Linked DNA regions of Homo sapiens: region 2 is linked to region 1. A link means that fine-mapping ties the variant in region 1 to the plasma level of a protein whose gene starts in the linked region. Region 1 holds a variant in brackets. A gene starts in the other region. All regions are shown on one strand. Distances are between the middles of the regions. Region 1 overlaps NOTCH2 (notch receptor 2). Region 2 holds the start of ACP6 (acid phosphatase 6, lysophosphatidic).

The links. PIP is the chance, under the fine-mapping model, that this variant and not a neighbour inherited with it causes the effect. The UK Biobank Pharma Proteomics Project read protein levels with antibody pairs (Olink). The fine-mapping took linkage between variants from a reference panel, not from the people measured, so its PIPs are less certain.
Region 2: ACP6 starts here. The variant in region 1 is fine-mapped to the plasma level of the ACP6 protein (UK Biobank, PIP above 0.99).

What each region holds. Positions count from the first base shown.
Region 1 is chr1:119,969,790-119,979,685 of GRCh38, forward strand. The region is part of intron 5 of NOTCH2 (notch receptor 2); the gene reads right to left. Among named protein-coding and RNA genes, the nearest start is that of ADAM30, 78 kb to the left of the region's middle. The variant T/C (reference allele first, on the strand shown) is at 2,620.
Region 2 is chr1:147,665,614-147,675,509 of GRCh38, forward strand. It overlaps ACP6 (acid phosphatase 6, lysophosphatidic), which reads right to left and starts at 4,911. Exons shown (of 10, transcript NM_016361.5): 1 at 4,217-4,911. The coding sequence starts at 4,435. RefSeq lists enhancers at 3,759-4,702, 3,914-3,973, 4,614-4,863, 5,304-5,373.

The sequences.
Region 1 (9,896 bases):
GGACTAGTACCATACCAGCCCCCCACACTCTTCATCTTCATGTGACCTGTCTGAAATTAAGGCAAGCAGAGCTCCAGAAGGCTGGGTCTTCACATGAATTTTAAGGCCAATTTGAGCCATCTAAATGATATTTTTTCCAGGCAAATCGTTTCAAGATGAATAGTTACTACCGTTAGAAACTCTAACAACATTAGGGTTTAGCCAACTTATCAAAGAGAAGGTAAAACCTGTAGGACCCTCGAGTTAACTAATCCCTGGGTCAATGAACATATAAGTAAGAAGAGCAAGGAGAGAAGAGTATAAAAATGAGTAAGAAAAAATAATGAGAAGGAACCTATATGCCAAACATTAGGGTAACTGTTCTATATCTTGACTGTATCAACGTCAATACACTGGTTGTAATATTATGCAACAGTTCCATAAGATGATGTTACCACTGGGAGACCCTTGATAAAGGGTACAGGAAATCTTTCTATATTAATTCTTATAACTGCACAAAACTACAAGTATCTGAAAATAAAAAGTCTAATTTTTGAAAATGTTAGGGCAAGCAACATAGGGTACAGAGAAGACATGAAAGATGTTGAAAATCTCTGGTGAAGTATGGATGTGAAGGGCAAGGCCAAGAATAATGAGACTGGAGCAAGCTGTGCTCAGCCTGAGGCACCCATACTTAAAGGATGGGGATTTGTGGAAGAAGACAAAGAAAGTCCACCCAATGTACTAGGAGATGGAAAAAGGACTGGTATGCACTGCCTGAAAAAGATCACACTAAAGGAAGCTAAACATGAGCCCACATCTGGCTAGGTTGCAGGTCACCACTATAGCAACAATGGAGACTAAGGCAAAGGCTCCTACATCCCTTAACAAAGAACAAGATAATGTCTTCAACTTACAACCAGGAATCTGTGATTAACAAAAACAGTATAGGGCCAGATCATATGAGCTATAAAATAAAGTGGTGATTGGTTTTGTTTGAGGTCTTTTAAAAACAGTTTAGAGAGCTATCAAAGGAACTAAAATTTAGATCATCCGAATTCTCTAAAACATGACAAGTTGTTGAAAATAAAAATATGTCAAGGTGTCCTTCATTCTTCCTTTGTAAATAAAACTCAACAAATAATTTTAAAAGGCACTCTGATAAAGAGGCCTCCTAATAAAAAAAGAACACAATATTTGTGCTTGGAAAATGCCAAGGCTATCTCTAGACCCAGAATACCTAGCAATTTGACTGGCTCATGTATCTGTAGAAGGCCTGTTAGCCATCATTACTCGCGGATGCTAGTTGTGTCTGACTTAACCTAACTGACTGCCTGTTCTTTATTCCTATCTAACATGTACCTCCATTACTATAGAACCAATATCACTCTATCACACTTATTTGGTTGCACATCTGTCTCCCACTACTTGGCTGCAGTTTAGAGGGGTTCTTTTGTATTCCCAGCAAGAGCCAACTGCCTAGGATGGCAGGATGGGTATGTGGATGTCTCCGGAACTCCGTGCTCGGCATAACCCTTCCATGCTCTTCTCCTAACTCCAGCCATATAATTCTTGAAGGAGCAACCATGTCTTTACATGATCAAACCCTCCTGGCCATGGCTGACTGACCCAAGATGGGCATCTGATCCAAGCTACATCACTGTATCTCTCCCAAATTATTGGAGTAGGACCACTTTGCCACATAGACCAAAAAGATGAGGAGGCTGGTCTGCAGAGAAAGTGATATGGGTGAATCAGAAGTGCACAGAGAGCCAGGCACAGTGGCTCACACCTGTAAACCCAACATTTTGGGAGGCCAAACAGGAAGATCACTGGAGCCCACAAGTTAGAGACCAGCCTGCAGGCACTACTTGGGAGGCTGAAGTAGGAGAATCACTTGTGCCATGATCATGCCACTGCACCCCAGTCTGGACAATAGAGCAAGACCCTGTCTCAAAAAAAGAAAAATAGAAAAGATGTGCACAAAGAGAAAAAAACATGGTGGCATTCAAGTTGTTGGTTCCAATTGCTACTGAAGCCCAACTACTAGTAAGCCTACTCAGTGGCATAGCCATTCTGAGAGATGCCTCTTGCAACAGGTCTTTCTAATTTGAAACGAGGCTGTGTCAACTGCATCCCAAAGTATTAATACAGAAAGAGTGAGTGAGGGATGAGGGAGTGAATGGGGGAGGTAATGAGGGTAATGAGGGAAATGAGGGAGGAAGGAAGGGAGAAGATGAATAAGAAAGTGAGAACACTGAGGTAGTGAGTGAGGGAGTGATTGCAAGGAGTGAGTGAGCGAGGGAGGGAATGCGTGAGAGAGTAAAAGATGGAGGGAGGTGAGAAAGGGAGGGAGGAAGGTAAGAAAGGGAGGGAGGGAGGGAGTCAGTGAGTGAGTGAAGGAATCAGAGAGTGAAGGAGGGAGGGAGTGAGCTCACCGGCAATAATCTCCCTCAGGGTAGATGATGTCATTTATTACAGAAACTTTGCTGTCTTATAGTGCTAGCAGAAATGGTACCTCAAAGTAATGACAGCTGTGTTATTAGGATGCAGGTGGGATTGAGAAATGAAAACATGACCAAGAAGTAGGTGAAGAGCTACTGCAACATGAAAATTGCTGAGTCTCATCTATTATACTTA[T/C]GCTAACTCAAATATCCACTGCCCACCAACCAAACTGACTTGCTGAATGTGAACAATTTAGATGTCATTTTTCTTTATTGAGGCTTTGTGATAATTTTGGGTACTATAAGACACAATGTGTTTAAAGCTATTTTGTATACATTTCTTATGCACCATAATAAACAGACACTGAAATAATGTAGCAAGACAAACTAGGTAAATAAAGGAAAGGAAATGTGGCACTCTTGGGAGAGGAAACCAGTAGCCATTGACTGCCTACTGAGAAGCAAGCACTGTGCTTGGGCTCCCATAAAAATTGTCTCATTTATATCTGAGGAAACAGCCTCAAAGAGGTAAAATAATTTGCCTTTGTAAGCCAGTGAGTGAAGGACAGTTGAGATTTGAACTGGAGCTGCCTCACTCTAAAATTCTTAACAAAGACCTGAGGTGAGAACCTGAACATATCAAGCCATCTCTGCATGTCTCGGGCTTCCCAAGGGCACACAGACATGGGGAAGTGGACAGGATGGAGGAGGTGAGGACTCAAATCATGACTCAAACAATTGGTTACTGGAAACACTTGTGACTGCAAACTCCTGTCTAAAAGGGAAATGTATTTTTAGGTACAGTCCACTGATTTTTGAATGAGACTGAATTTTGAAGATTAGCTGCCTTCACTGAACACCTTTGGACCATGCATCTGTTCGATAGTGCTTGTTAGGGACAGGAAATTTAGAGATCCAAGAAGATAGTGGCTTATAAGTAATTAGCTACTGGATGGATCACACTTCTCTAAGGTTCAGGCACATTTCTACAAATTCACATTTCCTCCTAGTCCTATTTCTGCCAGATTATTTTCTCCCTATTAAAATTCTATCAACTGGTTCTAAAATTCAGAATAGGAAAAACAGTAACCAGGGTGGCCATAAAACTTGCTTATTCTAAAATTCCCAGTGGAACATCTGCTATGATATAACAACTCCCTTCACGTCACCACCCTCCTGGCACAGGAGAAAACCAATGCTAAAGACTAAAAATAAAAAACTTCAGGTTCAGGAAGGTAAAAAAAAGGAAATAAAATCTTCCAAAGTTCACACGGTTGGTGAGTGAGAGTGCTGCATTGAAACCCGGATTGATCTGACTGCAAATCTGATGCTCTTTGACTGCAGCAGAGTTGAGTATTCAGCCCTGGATGTGATCAACACAATCTACAGATGAGGTCGCTGATCCCAGGGTCTTACAGCACCCTGAGAAGGCATAGGTGCATAAGACAGTTAAGGAACACTCGTATTAGAAAGGAATAAAGGCAGAAGGTCACTAGATATTTGAGTGGGAAAAGTTCTTGGCGATCACCTAGAGGTCTTAACGTGTATGCTCTACGGTCATTGAGCTTATCCCACTGGTGCAAGAAAGCACCAGCCTGGGCTGGTGGTTGAAGATTTACAGAGGAATACAGGATTAAGTCTTAAACATATTAAAATAACTGCAGTGTATTCTTTGGCTGGGGTTTTAGAAGAAGAAAAAGTGGGAGGTCATTGAGGCTTTGACTTCGAGTATGAATTCGGAACTTGATACAACAAGTAAAGGAGGATGAGGAAAGACATGATCGATACTGTGTTTGAAGGTAAGTTGGCCAATAGAACATAGAAGGGATTAAAAGCAAATGACTTTATGTTAGTAGGGAAAGCAGGAGAGAGCACTAAGTTATAGGCTACCTAGCAAATAAAAGCCTTTGGTGAAACAGGAGAGCTGTATTGTTTCCATGTCCTACCAAGCTACTAAATCTTCAATACAAACAAGTGTCAGCATGTATCATCACCTGTGTCAACACACAAACTTTGCTGGTGAACTCCCAAAATGTTGCACAAAGCTCAGTTAGGCAAGTTTTCAAGAGCAATAATTATCCCTCTCAGTAATTTCCACCTGCCAGATATTGCAGGCTACTGTCATTTTTTTAACATCAGGACTGAGGCAGTGGACTAGTTAGGCTCTTATTTCCTATGGGCAAAAGAGAAAGAAGATAACTTGTTTTTAAAAACTACCCTCTCTAATGCCACAATGACTCTGGAATAATCTGAAATGAAATGTCAAACTAGCATATCCTTGGCTGATACCTTAAACACTGAGTGCCACCTGTAACTACTGACAATTTTCTGGTTGATCACTTTTGCCTCGTAAATATACTCAAATCTACACCTCTCCTTTGTACAGTTTATACTAACCACAATAACTTTTGTTGATTCCTCAAACATTAAGTTCTCTCCTGCCTCAGTGCTGCTGCATAAGCTGCTCTGTCCACCTGAAACATTTTTTCCCTGCTTATTCACATGGCGAGGTACCTGTCTTATCAATAGAGTAGGTCTCCAAATGCACATCTCCTCATGATTCTCCACCATTGCATCATTCCATTCAATCCATCCTGGAATGTATCACGAGCTGTGATTTCATATTTATTTACTCTTTACAGTCTCTTCCCCATTTCGCTATAAGCTCCAGGAGGGCAGGGACTGTGTCTGCCATTCACCTCAGTATCTATGCCAGCCACTGTACTAGACACTTGGTGTCAGTGGTGGAACTGACCTTGGACAGCATCTAATCTAACATGCTCATTTTACAGATGAGGAAACTAGGACCTGAGAGGTATAGCAACTTGCCCAACTTTGCACAGTTAGTTGGCAAAATAATTAGAAGTGAAAATAGCTCAGTGCTGATAAAGACTTTGGGGTGTGAGATTGCTGCAGATCAAGTTAGTTTTCAAAATAAAGAAGGCCAATCTGAGCTGACTGTTGAGGGATGTAGGGAAAGAGGAAGAAACTCAGAGTGCTACAAGTGAAGATGACATGGCATTACCAAGCCACCATTAGCAAAGGAAGTATACTGTTTTGGTTTTGCAGGAGTAGGGTCACCTCCATGCTGATCTTTTCTTGTTGCTCCATCCTCTGGCTTCAGGCTGAACAAGTAAGATTATGGGCACAGTCAGCCAGGCGTGGTGGCTCACGCCTATAATTCCAGCACTTTGGAAGGCTGAGGCAGGTGGATCACGAGGTCAAGGGATTGAGACCATCCTGGCCAACATGGTGAAACCCCGTCTTTACTAAAAATACAAAAATTAACTGGGCATGATGGTGCATGCCTGTAGTCCCAGCTACTTGGGAGGCTGAGGCAGGAGAATCGCTTGAATCCAGGAGGCGGAGGTGGCAGTGATCTGAGATCGTGCCACTGCACTCCAGCCTGGCGACAGAGCAAGACTCCATCTCAAAAAAAAAAAAAAAAAAAAATTATGGACACAGCCTGTGGCAGTAAATATAACAGGGTGAACCTAAGAGGTCTGTGCTGAAATAGAAACCATGGCCTGGGCCTCATTAGCACCACGCTTCAGCCAAGTGAGCCAAAGACCATGAAACAGTCAGCATTTATGAGCTGTAACACGCAGGGACACAAACAGCTCATTATGGCTCTCTCAAGGCAAGGGCCCCACCCACAAACCACTAATCTGATTTGGAGCTACAAGTGATGGGTAAAAAATAGAGGGGGACAACAAGAGAAAGAAAGAAAAGAAGAGAAAGGAATTGAAAAAAGTAAGGTGCTGAGCCTCGACTCTCATCCTTTCCAGTCATCTCTCAACTGTGAAGTCTGTGGGAAAAAGTCTGATCACATTACTGGTCCAGTTAAGGGTCAACTCTCATTGCAACAACAATCTCCACAAGAGGAACAAATAAAAAATGAGCTTGGCTGGCCCTTGCACTGAGTCTGCTACCTTCTCCTCTATGGCTGAGTCAAGAGAGCTCCATCTCCTATATACCTTTCCAACCAGCAGTCACCCAAGCCCCTGAGTTCTGGAGTTTCATCTCTTTCTGTGTCAGAGCAGATCATTCCTGGGACTTCTATCCTACAAAACCTCAGCTCCATACACAGGAGACTTTCTATCACGCTGCTGAAGTTGGAGCTGAAGAACAAAGAACAAGCTTGAGTGTCCCATCACCTGCTCGGAATAAAGTTGGGTGAAACATTCTGTATAAACACTGCTGTCTACAGGGCCTGCCTACTGAGAGGATGGTCTGGGAGTATAGATGTGGCTAAGGGGATAATGTAGTTGTGGAAAGGATATTCATACACAGAATAAATGCAAGAAATTCCTCCACTAATTCTAGACAGCATCATCTTTTTCAGGACTTCTCAAAGGCCTGGTTTCCCTGCATCATGACCAATGTATTTTCTAAAGAGCCGCCAGGATGATCTTAACATGTAAAGTAGAATGCGCCACTCGCTTGTTCAAATCCTTTGATGAATTATTTTGCATTTAGGATAAAATTCTAACACCTACCAGTGTTTTCTGCCTATCTCTTTAGGCTCTAACCATGAAATATCACTAGCTCCAGCCACTCTGGGCTTTTTTCATTTCTCAAAATGATCACATTCTTTCCCTCCTCAGTGGCTAGCACACGTTATTCCTTGTGCCTGGGATAGTCTTATCCTCACTCTCCCCAACTCCTACTCATTGTCTATATGGAAAATGTTACTTTCTCAAAGAGACCTTACTTGCTTGTCACTAAACACAATTAGTTCTGCCTATTAATATGCTCTCCAGATACATTCTATGTTTCCTGCAAGGCATTTAGTACAGTTCAAAATTTTATGGAGAATTATATTGTCTATGCCTGTGTTTCTCACTAGACTGTCAGTGCCATGAAGAAATGGGGGGTAGCTGTTTACCTCATCACTGAATCCCCAGCATGAAACACAATCCCAAGCTTAAATAAATATTCGTTAAATGAATGTTTATCTGCTTAAGGTTCTCTTATTTAAGTTATCCTAATCCCAAAATAATAATTATCTTTCAACTCACCCTTCTCATAGCAACAGTATCTCTATTCTGTTCCTACCCAAAGTGTCCGTCACCCTTGTCTACACCACCAGTTCACACGCAAACCCCTCATCCCAGTCCCCTTCCTGTGTCACTGAACTCTATCTCATTTGTATCACACCCAGATTCACCTTGCCTTTGCCCACTAATCCTTCAACTACGCCTCAAGGGCAACTCTACATTAAGGTGTACAACTTCCTTCTTTGACTGAAACCTGAGTTTTCCCTAAACACACCAGCCCAGTCAGCCCTCTGCGGTAGAGCTCCTGCAGTCCTCCTCTTCTAAACACTGCCACTGACAGGAAACTAGGGGAGAAAGAGCGGGTTTTCTTTTTATTCCCCAACGTCACTACTAACCTCAGCAGTAAAAACATATGCACTGAGTTATTTCTAGGTTCCAGATGATATGTGCTTTACATTGATTGTCAACTATAGTCTTCATATATAATTAGTCTAATTTTACAGATTTAGTACAAACTCGGTACACACTGAAGAAAAATACTAAAGTATCTTAGAAAGGTAAGAAGAGCTGTGAATTTGGAGATGAGGTTGGGCTGGGAACAACTGGAAAATTTAATGCTGTAATTCATTCATTCGTTTATCTAAAATATATATATGTACACATACACACACACGCACACAAACACAATGTGCCAGGCTCTGACTATACACAATGGGATTATAATGGTGAACAAAACAGCCATGGCTTCTGCCTGCAGAACTTACAAACAGCAGACTTATAACCAAACAAACAATGATGACACAGAGTGACAGGTGCTTTCATAGATACCTATTGCCTTGGGAGTACAGAGTAGGGAGAATAGAGAGGAACTAGAGAATGTAACTTTTAAGAGAAGGCCTGGGAGGAGCGTGCCAGGTTGTGAAAGAGGGGAGAAGTGTGTGAGGGAGTGTGTAGAGAAAGGGTGGAGTGCGGAGTATTTCAGGCAGAAAGCATAGGCTTGAGTTGAAGAGACAGCATGGTTCATTTGCGGCAATGAAAAAAAATTCTTGTGGTTGAATTATAAGAAATGCATTAGGGGAGTGAAGAGAGGTGTGGCTGGAGAGGGAGTTACATGCACAGCCTTGGGACTAAATCCAAAGACAAGGAGGACCCATTGAAGTGTTTCCAGCAAAGAAATGACTCGATCCAATGCATGTTTCAGAAAGTCCACTCTGCTGCAGTGAGGAGAATGGACTGAACTCCACCTCACCCCTCCAGGTCAACAAAAACTTCAAGAACTGCAGAGTCCAGGCTCCTGTGGCCACTATTGGCCACTATAGCAATGAGAAATACTGCAGTGCATCTGGGGCAGATTCCGGAGGCAGCAGCACTGAAAAGCATCCAGGCTCAGCCACTGGGTGGATTGCCATGGAGGCTGGGCCAGTACTGGGCATTCAGAAAGCTGACCCCCGCCACAGAGAAGAAAGTGGTGCCAAGCTTTGGTCTCCTGCTAGGAGGCCCCACTCTCTGGCTCTCCCCACCTTAGGCTGCTGGGTTGTTGAGCCAGTTTACATAAAAGCCCCTCACTGCACCAGGAGGAAAAACTAGCTGCAGCCAGGTTGAGAGTGAGGGGATCCAGGGGAACACCCACCTCCCCTGTCTATGGGCAGGCAGTTACTCTGCTCAGAATGAGTAAAATGGAAAAAAACAACATGGCACCTATTAAAAGATTCTACAACATAAAACATGGAGAATGTAATGCTTAAGATATTGATGAAAAGCACACTGGGAAAATTATTCACTTACAGGAGCTAATACATTTTAGAAAGAACTGCTCCTGTACACTCAAGACATTTAGACATGTTTACGTTCTACAAAGAAATAAAAAATAATATAGGACATTAGTCTCTGATCAAAGGGGCTGAGAGGCAGGCAGAAGAAGCTATAAAGGACTGACCTGACAATGAAGAAATATAAGTCAGTGTTATAAAGAAGAACCTTAAGAGAGCTCTCACAGAACACAAAACAAAAAATGAACAGATTAAAAATCAAGAGAGATTTTAGCTTTGCAGAAGAAAGAATGAAGACCTAATTGCAAAGATAATAGGTTTTCCTGACAACTCTACAACAAATGAAAAAGAAGGCAGGGAGCCCAGTGTTACTTATGAAAAAGAAGAAACACTCAACTGGCATTGCATTTCCCTAGAATAGTAACCAGAAGACACAAAGGAACAATGTCTAAGAATTTGATGAGATTAATTCGTGACCCAAGAATTTGATATCTAGTCAAGATACAACTTGTGTATGAAGGCAACTAAATCAAAAGACATTTTTTGACTAACCAAATGGGTCCAACATGTAACTCCTCTGAAATAAAATTATTCAAAGATACTTATTCAGCTAAAATGTTAATGAAAATAAGGAACTCAGAAATGAAAATGTTGTGACATAATTGCACTGGTAGTTAACACAAAACAAGTAGCACATACAACTA
Region 2 (9,896 bases), 28 Mb after region 1:
GAAACTCCTTTAAAGGCAAGACTGAATTATCCATCCTTGTAGTTCCAGTGTCCACCACAGGGCCTGACACAAAGCTCCACAGGGCCATTCAGCCTCACTAAGAAATCTGTTAGGCACATTCACCAAGAGAGGACCCTTGGCGTCTCCTAGGAGTCTGGAGTCCAGGTCACGTCAAGTCTAAAGTACAGTTTTCAGATTTTCAAGAATGGATGATACATCAGTTTCATATAATAGTGTCCACCCCACATACACACTCTCATTCTCATTCCTGCTCTTAAGCTTCCCAGTTAGTGGCAAAGACTAACTTGATAATTTTACTTATTTTGTGTATACCCCTCTTCAAGGGGTAATAAAGTAGATATAGCAAAAATTAAAATATAGTAAGACAACCAATTCAAAGTAGGCAAGAAAGACAAAAGCAAACAAATGTAGGGACAAAGAAATGGATGCAGTAACACGGTTACTAAAATATGTACACCATGAAGATCTGTTTACTTACTATAGGTGGGCCACAGACTTGGCACCCAGCTTCCTGACTTTTACATAAAGAAACAAACTTGATCAGCTAGACTAGTTTAAAGAAAAAAGCAAGCCAATTGTTCAGGAGAAGCACACCATTCCTAATGCTAACAGACAAATTCCTCCCAAGGGTCCTCATAAAGAGGATAGAGTAATATAATGAACATCTTTTCAGCAGTCACAGCAATGAGTTCTGTGGGATTGTTTCTCCTAGTTCTCTCAACACAGAAAGATAACCTCTTACCAAAGCACATTTCAGCGAAGGCAATTCTGTACTGGGATTGATATACTACATTCCAGGTAAAAGAACAAATCTACATAAAAGTAAACAAAAACCTCCCAGGTGTAGATTTTAAAATAAAGCAATCATATTAAACCTTGTCTGTATACTGGTATTACCAGGACATTTTTTAAAAGTTACTGATGCCTGAGTCCCAACCTGGGATAACCGCATTTGGATTATCCCCCAAAAAAGTGGGGCCTCCACTTTTTTAATGCTCTTCAGTCCAGATAATTCTCAAGCTTCACCAGAGAGTCTTTTACATTATCTGGATACCCCGGACCAATTAAATTAGAATCCTTCGGAGGGAGACCCTGGCATGTGTATTTTTTAAAGCTTTCCAGTTGACTCCAATGTTCACCACGGTTAAGAACCATCGATCCTGAAGAATGGGTGGACCTCATGTAATGCTTCTTGAATACCGCTTCTTTTAGCTGAGTTTTGGAAAGGTACTAAGCAATAAAAGATTCTTACATTATGCTTCCCAGCTCATCTATATTGTCAAATAAATAGGGACCCAAATGTCTTAATCAACAGTGAAGCTGGGGTAGGTTGGACTTTATTTTATAAAAACTGAGGAATCTCCCTGGGTGGAGGCCATCTTGACACCCAGGGGAGTTGAGGGAAGCCTGGAAGCAGTGCCAAATCTTTTCTTTTGATAGTGCATTTGGATCTGCTCTAATGATCAGGAAAAAAAATGGCCAATCAAGTTCTATATTTTTATTTCCAAAGCACAATCTTTTAGCAAAACAGGTTAAACCAACAGCCATTCAAGCCATAAGAAAACAACCCAATAAAACACTAGTTTTTTGTTTTTGTTTTTGAGATGGAGTCTTGCTCTATCACCCAGGGTAGAGTGCAGTGACCCAATCTTGGCTCACTGCAACCTCCGCCTCCCGGGTTCAAGCAATTCTCCTGCCTCAGCCTCCCGAGTAGCTGGGATTACAGGCGCCCACCACCACACCGGGCTAATTTTTGTATTTTTAGTAGAGATGGGGTTTCACCATTTTGGCCGGGCTGATCTCGAACTCCTGACCTCTTGATCCACCTGCCTCAGCCTCCCAAAGTGCTGGGATTACAGGCATGAGCCACCACACCCAGCCAAAACATCTAGTTTTAAATCATGCTACTTTCTGAGAATTTGTGAGATGGCTGAATGAAGTGACTTGTCACATATATTAATCTATAAACCAGTCAGAAATCAGGAAACATGTACCAAAGACAAAAAATTTTTGCCAGGCAGTCCCTTCTGACTATAATTAATAGCAGAACCAAGAAGATTAAAAAATCCCAATAACGGCCGGGTGCTGGCTCACGCCTGTAATCCCAGCACTTTGGGAGACTTGAAGCAGGCGGATCATGAGATCAAGATATCGAGACCATCCTGGCCAACATGATGAAACCTCGTCTCTAGTAAAAATACAAAAATTAGTCGGGCCTGGTGGTGTGCACCTATAGTCTCAGCTACTCGGGAGGCTGAGGCAAGAGAATTGCTTAAACCCGAGAGGCGGAGGTTGCGGTGAGCCGAGATCGCGTCACTGCACTCCAGCCTTGCAACAGAACAAGATTCTGTCTCAAAAAAAAAAATCCCAATAACAACCTCTATCAAATTGGATCTTGAAATGAACACTGGACAGAGACTATCCAGAAACAAGTTTTAAGAGGCTAATATTTGCTCATAGCCTAAATTGAAAGAGAGTTGGTTCACCCCTGATTTTCATGCACACAACTTTATACTAGAGAGCCGAAGACGTTTAAAGCATCTGTCTAAAGTCTGGAGAATATGAGCAGAAAGGAGAGGTAATATGCCTTCTCTAATTGCAAAGTCAGGCCATGGATTCAGATGCTATTTTGTGGCTACACAGATTGAAGATGAATGAAGCTGGTATCCTAAGCTACAACGGACCTTTCAACCATAAAGGCAGAAGATATCCATCACACACCCACTCTCCCTTAGGGATAAAGCCCTAAAAGAATCTAAATCTTTTCCTAGTGCCTTCAGGATATATATATATATATATATGGTACATACTAGGTCTAGGCCTACACATTCAAAGTTTTACTCTCCATTACCACTGATAATTTTTTGTCTTCTACGTGAATATAATATATATTCCTACATGTGATTCCCCAGTCCTTCTGTACCAAGAATAAATAGAGAAGAATTGGGGGAAGGGGAGCATCAGAGATGGGCTGTATACAAAATCATAAGGAAAATTTAGTGATCTAATATAAAAAGGCAAAGTAAGAGACTGAAAAAAAAATCAAAGAATCAAAATGAAAGAAGAAATCCCGGTTCCAGAGAGCAAGTGGTAAAGCCAGAGTAAGGCTAACTAGAAACCTGGTAATAGAATTAAGTGCCTTCCAAATGTATTTATTTATGTGGAAAATGCTTTAGAAGTTTAATTTCATGTGCGGCCAACCTTGAAAAATGGGTTTCCAGTTGTACAATGTAAAGACACAATCCTGAAGGTTTCTAGAAAGCAACTGTTATTATGAAGAGTATACCTAACATCAATTTTGGACAATCTTTTCGACCTCCTCCAACATCAACCTGGAAGACCAACGATACAAAAGCACTCCACAGGTGTAATACCTGGGAGTTTGGGGATTTCAGGTTGCCTGTTCCTCTTCACTAGGCCTTTCTGCTATAAAAAGTCACATCCAGGAAAGATAATCATTTTTTTTTAAACTATTTGTGCTTTAGTCATAATTATCCTGACAAAACCAGACAGATTTTTAAAACATTACTGCCACAGACTAGCCCATTTTAAATTTGTTCCGACCTCAGATCCCTCCCACTATAGGTTTAGTAACCTTAAATAGAAAAGGAGAACCCTAGAATACAACACTTGTTACAAAAAAAAACTTCAGGAGATCTCAAATGGCCTCCAGCAAACCCTGAGAAAAAGCAGTTATAAAGTTTGTTTCCAAAGGCAACGACCTCTTATCCACTGTAATCTCAGTTAAGAGTGGTTCCTATCACTAAAGTCCCTTCAGCCCTTCAGCTCTGACAAACCACCTTCAAAATGGTCACACAGAAGTGCACTGCACCCTTGTATTCAAGTTCACCTAGACCCTTAATAGAAATGCTGACCTGGGGCACTACTCCACACCTGCTGAATCAGAATCTGCAACGTAGCAGGATCCCCAGGCGACTCCCATGCGTCTTAAGCAGCGCTTACTGATGGCTGCGCCATCAGGGCAAAACTGGAAGTTCCGGGGCTGTCCTAACCCCAGCAGGTCCTTTGCTCAAGAGCCTGGGGAGTCACTGGCTACTGCTGTTTTCCCTTCTTCTGGACCCAACCCGAGCCCCGCTCCGCGCGAGTAAAGCTCTGAAGATGTGTGTCAGGGCGAGACTCCTGGCCTGGCACACGGTCCTCGCCCCACCAGCCCCAGCCCGGGCCGACCTCTCACCTGCTCCTCCAGCGGGAGCGGCTTGAGAGGACTCCGAGCCCCGTGTCGAAACACGACCTGCACCATTTTCAACTTCAGCAGGCTGCGGTCGACCGGACACTGGCCATCGGCCTCCTGCAGCTCGGCCAGGGCCACCCGCCGCTGGTGCAGGCAGTACGCCAGCGAGGTCAGGACGCCCACTGGGGTCCACAAGCGCATGCTGAACACACCAGTGATCATGGTGGTAGGCCCTCGCTGCCCTCCGGGTTGAGGCTGCAGGAGGCAAACACAAGTCTTCTGCGGGCGCCGGGGCTCAGCGGGCGCCCCCAAGTCCGCGGGAACCTGCGGATGCGTACATCCAGCCCTTCAGCAAGCAGGGACCGCTGTGCCTCCCGGCCCTGAGGGAGACCCCGAGTGGGAACGGGGGAGAGAACAAGAGGTGGCAGCAGCGAAGAGTCCCTGGGAGTTTTAACCCGGGTCGGGGTTGGTCGCTCCTGCTGCACACCGGGCCGGGGGAGATCGGATCCTTATCTTTTGCCCGACGAGGAACATTAAACTTGTATTTCAAGTTTGGCCTCCAGCACTCTTGAAGGAACAGGAGCCGGCCCTGAGTTCCCTGGCGGCAGCGGCTCCACCAGCAAGGACTACTCGATTCCACTTTTCTATAAGCAAGCTCCTACCCACCTCCTCACCTACTCAGGGACCCGTCCCAAGTGGACCCGCGCACAGGAGCACGGGAAAACGAGTCCTGTGGTGACACCTCGCCTGGAGACTCAGAGCTGCGGAAACTACAACTCCCACAAGGCTGCGCGTACCGCGGCTCCCAAGAAGTGGCTTGTACCCGCCCCCCTCGCCTGCGGGCCTCGCCCCTCCGGCCCAGCCAGCCGTTTTCCAGGCGTGGATGGCCCACGGACGTGCCTGGTCCGGCAGTGGAGTGGTAGTGAATCTGTCGGGCCATGGAGTTTGCCAGGCAGGAGGATCGCGAGCGCAGGAGTAGAACTGGGTGGTGGAGGGGAGTAGTTTGAGTCTAGTTTTGAATGTAGAAGACTTCCTTCCAGTCCTGGAAGCCTGGTTGCTGCAGCGAGGAGCTGAGACACCTGCCGAGTGATTGCCATTTGCGAAACACAGCACTAGGTGCTTTATATTTAGTCATTTACTACTCCCTTCTCTGTTTTTAAAAAAATTCTCAAGCTTAAGTCATTGTAATCATGTAGAACTTTCAGGTCACTGATGTGTTTACTTCCATCCAGAATACTTCTTGTGGAAAAAGCCAGGCCTTGCCTGTGGGTGTCCCAGTGATTAAGAACCTAAGAGGCGCCATGGCTCACGCCTGTAATCCCAGCACTTTGGGAGGCCGAGGCGGGTAGATCATGAGGTCAGGAGATCGAGACCATCCTGGCTAACACGGTGAAACCACGTCTCTACTAAAAATACAAAAAAAAAAAAAAAAAAAAATTAGCCAGGCGTGGTGGCGGGCACCTGTAGTCCCAGCTACTCAGGAGGCTGAGGCAGGAGAATGGCGTGAACCCGGGAGGCGGAGCTTGCAGTGAGCCGAGATCGCGCCACACGACTCCAGCTTGGGCAACAGCGCAAGACTCCGTCTACAAAAAAAAAACAAAAAAAAACCTAAGAACACAGAACAATGCCAGCCTTACCACCTGCTAGTCTGGTTTCTGTTGATATACAGGTATCCCAAGCCTGTGTTTCCAGATCTTTGCAACAGGACACAATCTGGGACCCACTATGTGTCTATCTCCAAAGATCAAACTGGGCCAGATGTAAAGACAACATACTTACAGAGCATGGCTCCTGGCCTGAGAACAAATTCTGTTCACCAAGCTGGAAGGTTCTGAGTGCTCCCCTCCCTGATGCAGGGAGGAGGGTCATTTTGGAACACTACATATTGTCACAATTTTCTCCCTAGCCCAGCCAAGGGACTCACTTTTCAGAGTCTTATTGTGTGTGCTGATGTGATTAAAAATCGAATACTGTTTGCTATGGACTCAGTTGTGTCCCCCGCCAAATTCGTACCCACTAAGTGACTGCATTTGGACATAGGACTTTTAGAAGGTGATTCTGTCAGAGGCATTTGAACCATAGTGACTCCATCTTGAATAGCGGCTGGGTAAAATGAGGCTGAGACCTACTGGGCTGCATTCCCAGGAGGTTAGGCATTCTCAGTCACAGGATGAGGGGGGAGGTCAGCAGGACTGGTATCACAAGAAACCAGTCAAAAAGACCCTGCTGATAAAACAGGAAGTGGTAAAGAAGCTGGCCAACACCAACCAAATGCAAGATGTTGATGGAAGTGACCTATGGTCAAACTCACTGCTCATTTTACGTTAATTATAATGCATTAGCATGCTAAAAGACACTCCCATCAGCACTATGACAATTTACGAATGTCGGGGCCAGCAGTTACCCTATATGGCCTAAAGTGGGGAGGAACCCTCAGTTCCAGGAAATCCCACTCCTTTCCCAGAAAATTCATGAATAATCCACCCCTTGTTTGGCATATAATTAAGAAATAACCATAAGTATTTTCAGTTGAGCAGCCCATGCCCCTGCTCTGTCTATGGAGTAGCCATTCTTTTGTTTCTCTTTTTCTCTAATAAACTTGCTTTCACTTTATGGACTCGCCCCAAATTCTTTCTTGCCCGAGGTCCAAGAACTCTCTCTTGGAGTCTGGATCAGGACCCCTTTCCAGTAGCAATTTTGGTTAAGTGAAGATATAAATGTGAGGTCCTAATCCAGTAGGATTGATGGCTTTATAAGAAGAGAAAGAAGGATCTCTCTCTCCACACAGGAGATCTGATGGTTTTATAAGTTTTTGGAAATTCCTCCTTCTTTCTCCTCTCTGGTCTGCCAACTTGTGAAAAAGGTGCCTGCTTCCCCTTCTGCCATGATTATAAGTTTCCTGAGGCCTCCCCCTGTCCTCAGCCATGCAGAACTGTGAGTAAATTTACTCCTTTGTTTATAAATTGTAGTATCTTTATAGCAGTGTGAAAACGGACTAATACAGCAATGGTCCTGTCAGGGCTCATGTGTCCTGTTGGAGGGGGAGTGTGGGGAAGTGTGGGGAACAACTTAGCAGCAGATCTCCAAAAGAAACCAGAGTGAGGGTGGAAAATAGCTGATTTCATGTGGTTGTTAAAAGCACTGTTTGTCAACACATGTGAGACAAACCATGGGGAGTCCAGATGTATTTTGTGTGTGATAGTAGTGGCAGTGAGCTGCAATTTAAAAGAGGCTGGGCCGGGCGCGGTGGCTCACGCCTGTAATCCCAGCACTTTGGGAGGCTAAAGCAGGCAGATCACCTGAGGTCAGGAGTTTGAAACCATCCTGGGCAACATGGTGAAACGCTGTCTCTACCAAAAATACAAAAATTAGCCGGGTGTGGTGGCACACATCTGTAATCCCAGCTACTCGAGAGGCTGAGGCAGGAGAATCGCTTGAACCTGGGGGCAGAGGTTGTAGTGAGCCGAGATTGCACCACTGCCCTCCAGCCTGGGCGGCAAAGTGAGATTCCATCTCAAAAAAAAAAAAAAAAAAAAAAAGAGAGAGAGAGAGAGAGAGAGAAAGAGAGAGACTGGAAGTCCTGACCCAGGGTAGGACCGTGTGGGTGGGGGTGTTAGGGTGGTTGCAGGAAGCAGGGGAACACTGAGTAGCTGTTATTTTGACCCTGGTTTTAAACTACCAGGCAGGGATGGCTCGGGAAATAAGCCCTTTCCCAGCCAAATTGTCTTCAGAGGATTGCATTTAATATTATGTAAAAACTCAGTTTTAATAATGAGATTAGATAAGAAACAACCACATTCACATTTTTTTCCCCAGTGGTGAGCACAGTGCCTGGCTTGTAGTAAGTACTCCATAAATACTTGCCAAATGAAATTATAGGATATATCATAGGAATGTTGTTGAGCCATTGCTCATTACATCATTTATTGCTTCCTTTATAAATCTCCTCCTGAGAAATTTGGTTTAGAGTGTTAGAATTAGAACAAGCATTAAGAAGTATGAAGATTACTTTTCCTTCAATTTTGTCTTGGTTGTCAGGAAGCTTGGTGCCTAATTTTCAAACTTACCTATAGAAAATATTTAGAATCTAGTGGCCAGTATAACTATGATCTTTCCCTCCAGAGTATTACTCTGGATTGGATGGGAGCAAAACTGGAGAAAGGACCGTTAGGAGGCTGTTGCAGCAATCCAGCTATGAAACATGTAAGAGGTAGTTAACAAGTGAGAAGGAGGAAGGAGTCAAGGATGACTACTCTACGTTTCTGGCTTGGACAACCTGCAGATGATGCCATGCACCTGGGAAGGAGGTTAAGCAGAAATGACCAAGTTAATTTTGAATATGTAGATCATAAGGTACTTAGGTATCAAGGAAGCCAAGAGAAAAAAGGTTTTTTTAAAAAAGAGAATGGACAATAGTGTCAAATGGAACTGAGAAGCCAAGTAATGTAAGGTCCAGTGTCCAATGGATTTAACAACAAAGTAATCTTCTGTTAGTTAAGTGAGAGCAGTCTCAGTGAAATAGTGGAATCCTAATCCAATAATGGGGCAGAAATGGAATGCAAGTGGGAAGTAAGTGTAGACATCTTTAAGAAGCTTAGCTGAGAAGAGGGAATGAAAAAATGCAGTAGCTGGAGGTGTTTGATTCATGAAATTAAGGGAGAATTGTCTTTTGAAGATGAGAGAAGCTTGTATATATGTTTAAATGTTGATAGAAATAAGTTTCCAGATAAGGAGAGACAGGATAATAGATCTGATTAAGTGCTTAGGAGGGCAGGATAAAATCAGAAATGAGCTTAAGTGGCATAATTAGCTTCAGAAAGAAAAAGTATGTATTTTCCATGTTTATAGGAGGGGAATAAGAAAGAATAGGCATGGGTGAAATACATTCATGGCATGGAGATTCATGGGGCTTTTTTCTTTGTTTTTTTTTTTTTCTGCAAAATCAGAGTATGAGTTAGAGGGGTGGTGATTGGTGCTCCTGACAATTTGAGGAATGTGAGAAAGTAAAATACCCACAGTATACACAAGAGAGAGGGTCACAGCTAGGTAGCCAGAGGTTTGCCAGGTACCATGGAGAGCCCAATAGAGAACAGTTTTCTCCAACTTTATGGTACATCATAATCACTTGGCTTATTTGTTAGAATGTAGGTACAGGAGCACCAATATGTCTTACTATAGCCGAGTGGAGTCTGGAACTCTGTGTTTTAAACAAGCATCCAGGTGATTCTGATACAGAAGCTCTTCAGATCACACATTGAAAACTATGGATAGAGAGTCAAAGAGGGGTTAGTTTTAGTTTTAGTATGGAGGTGTTTTTTATAAAATGGGTGCTATAGTTTGGATGTTTGTCCCCTCTAAACCTCATGCTGAAATTTGATCCAGTGTTAGAAGTGGGGCCTAATGGGAAGTGTTGGGTCATGGCAGTAGATCCCTCATGAGTAATAGATTGATGCCCTCCCTCAGAAGTGAATAAATTCTCACTCTCCAAAAACTAGTTGTTAAAAAGAACCTGGCACCTCCCCACCTCCTTGCTTCATTTCTCATCATGTTATCTCTGCACTCACTGGCTCTCCTTCATCTTCCACCATGAGTGGAAGCAGCCTGTAGCCATCACCTAATGCATATGCCCAACCTTGAATTTTCCAGCCATCCAGAATTATGAGCCAAATAAACTTGTTTCTTT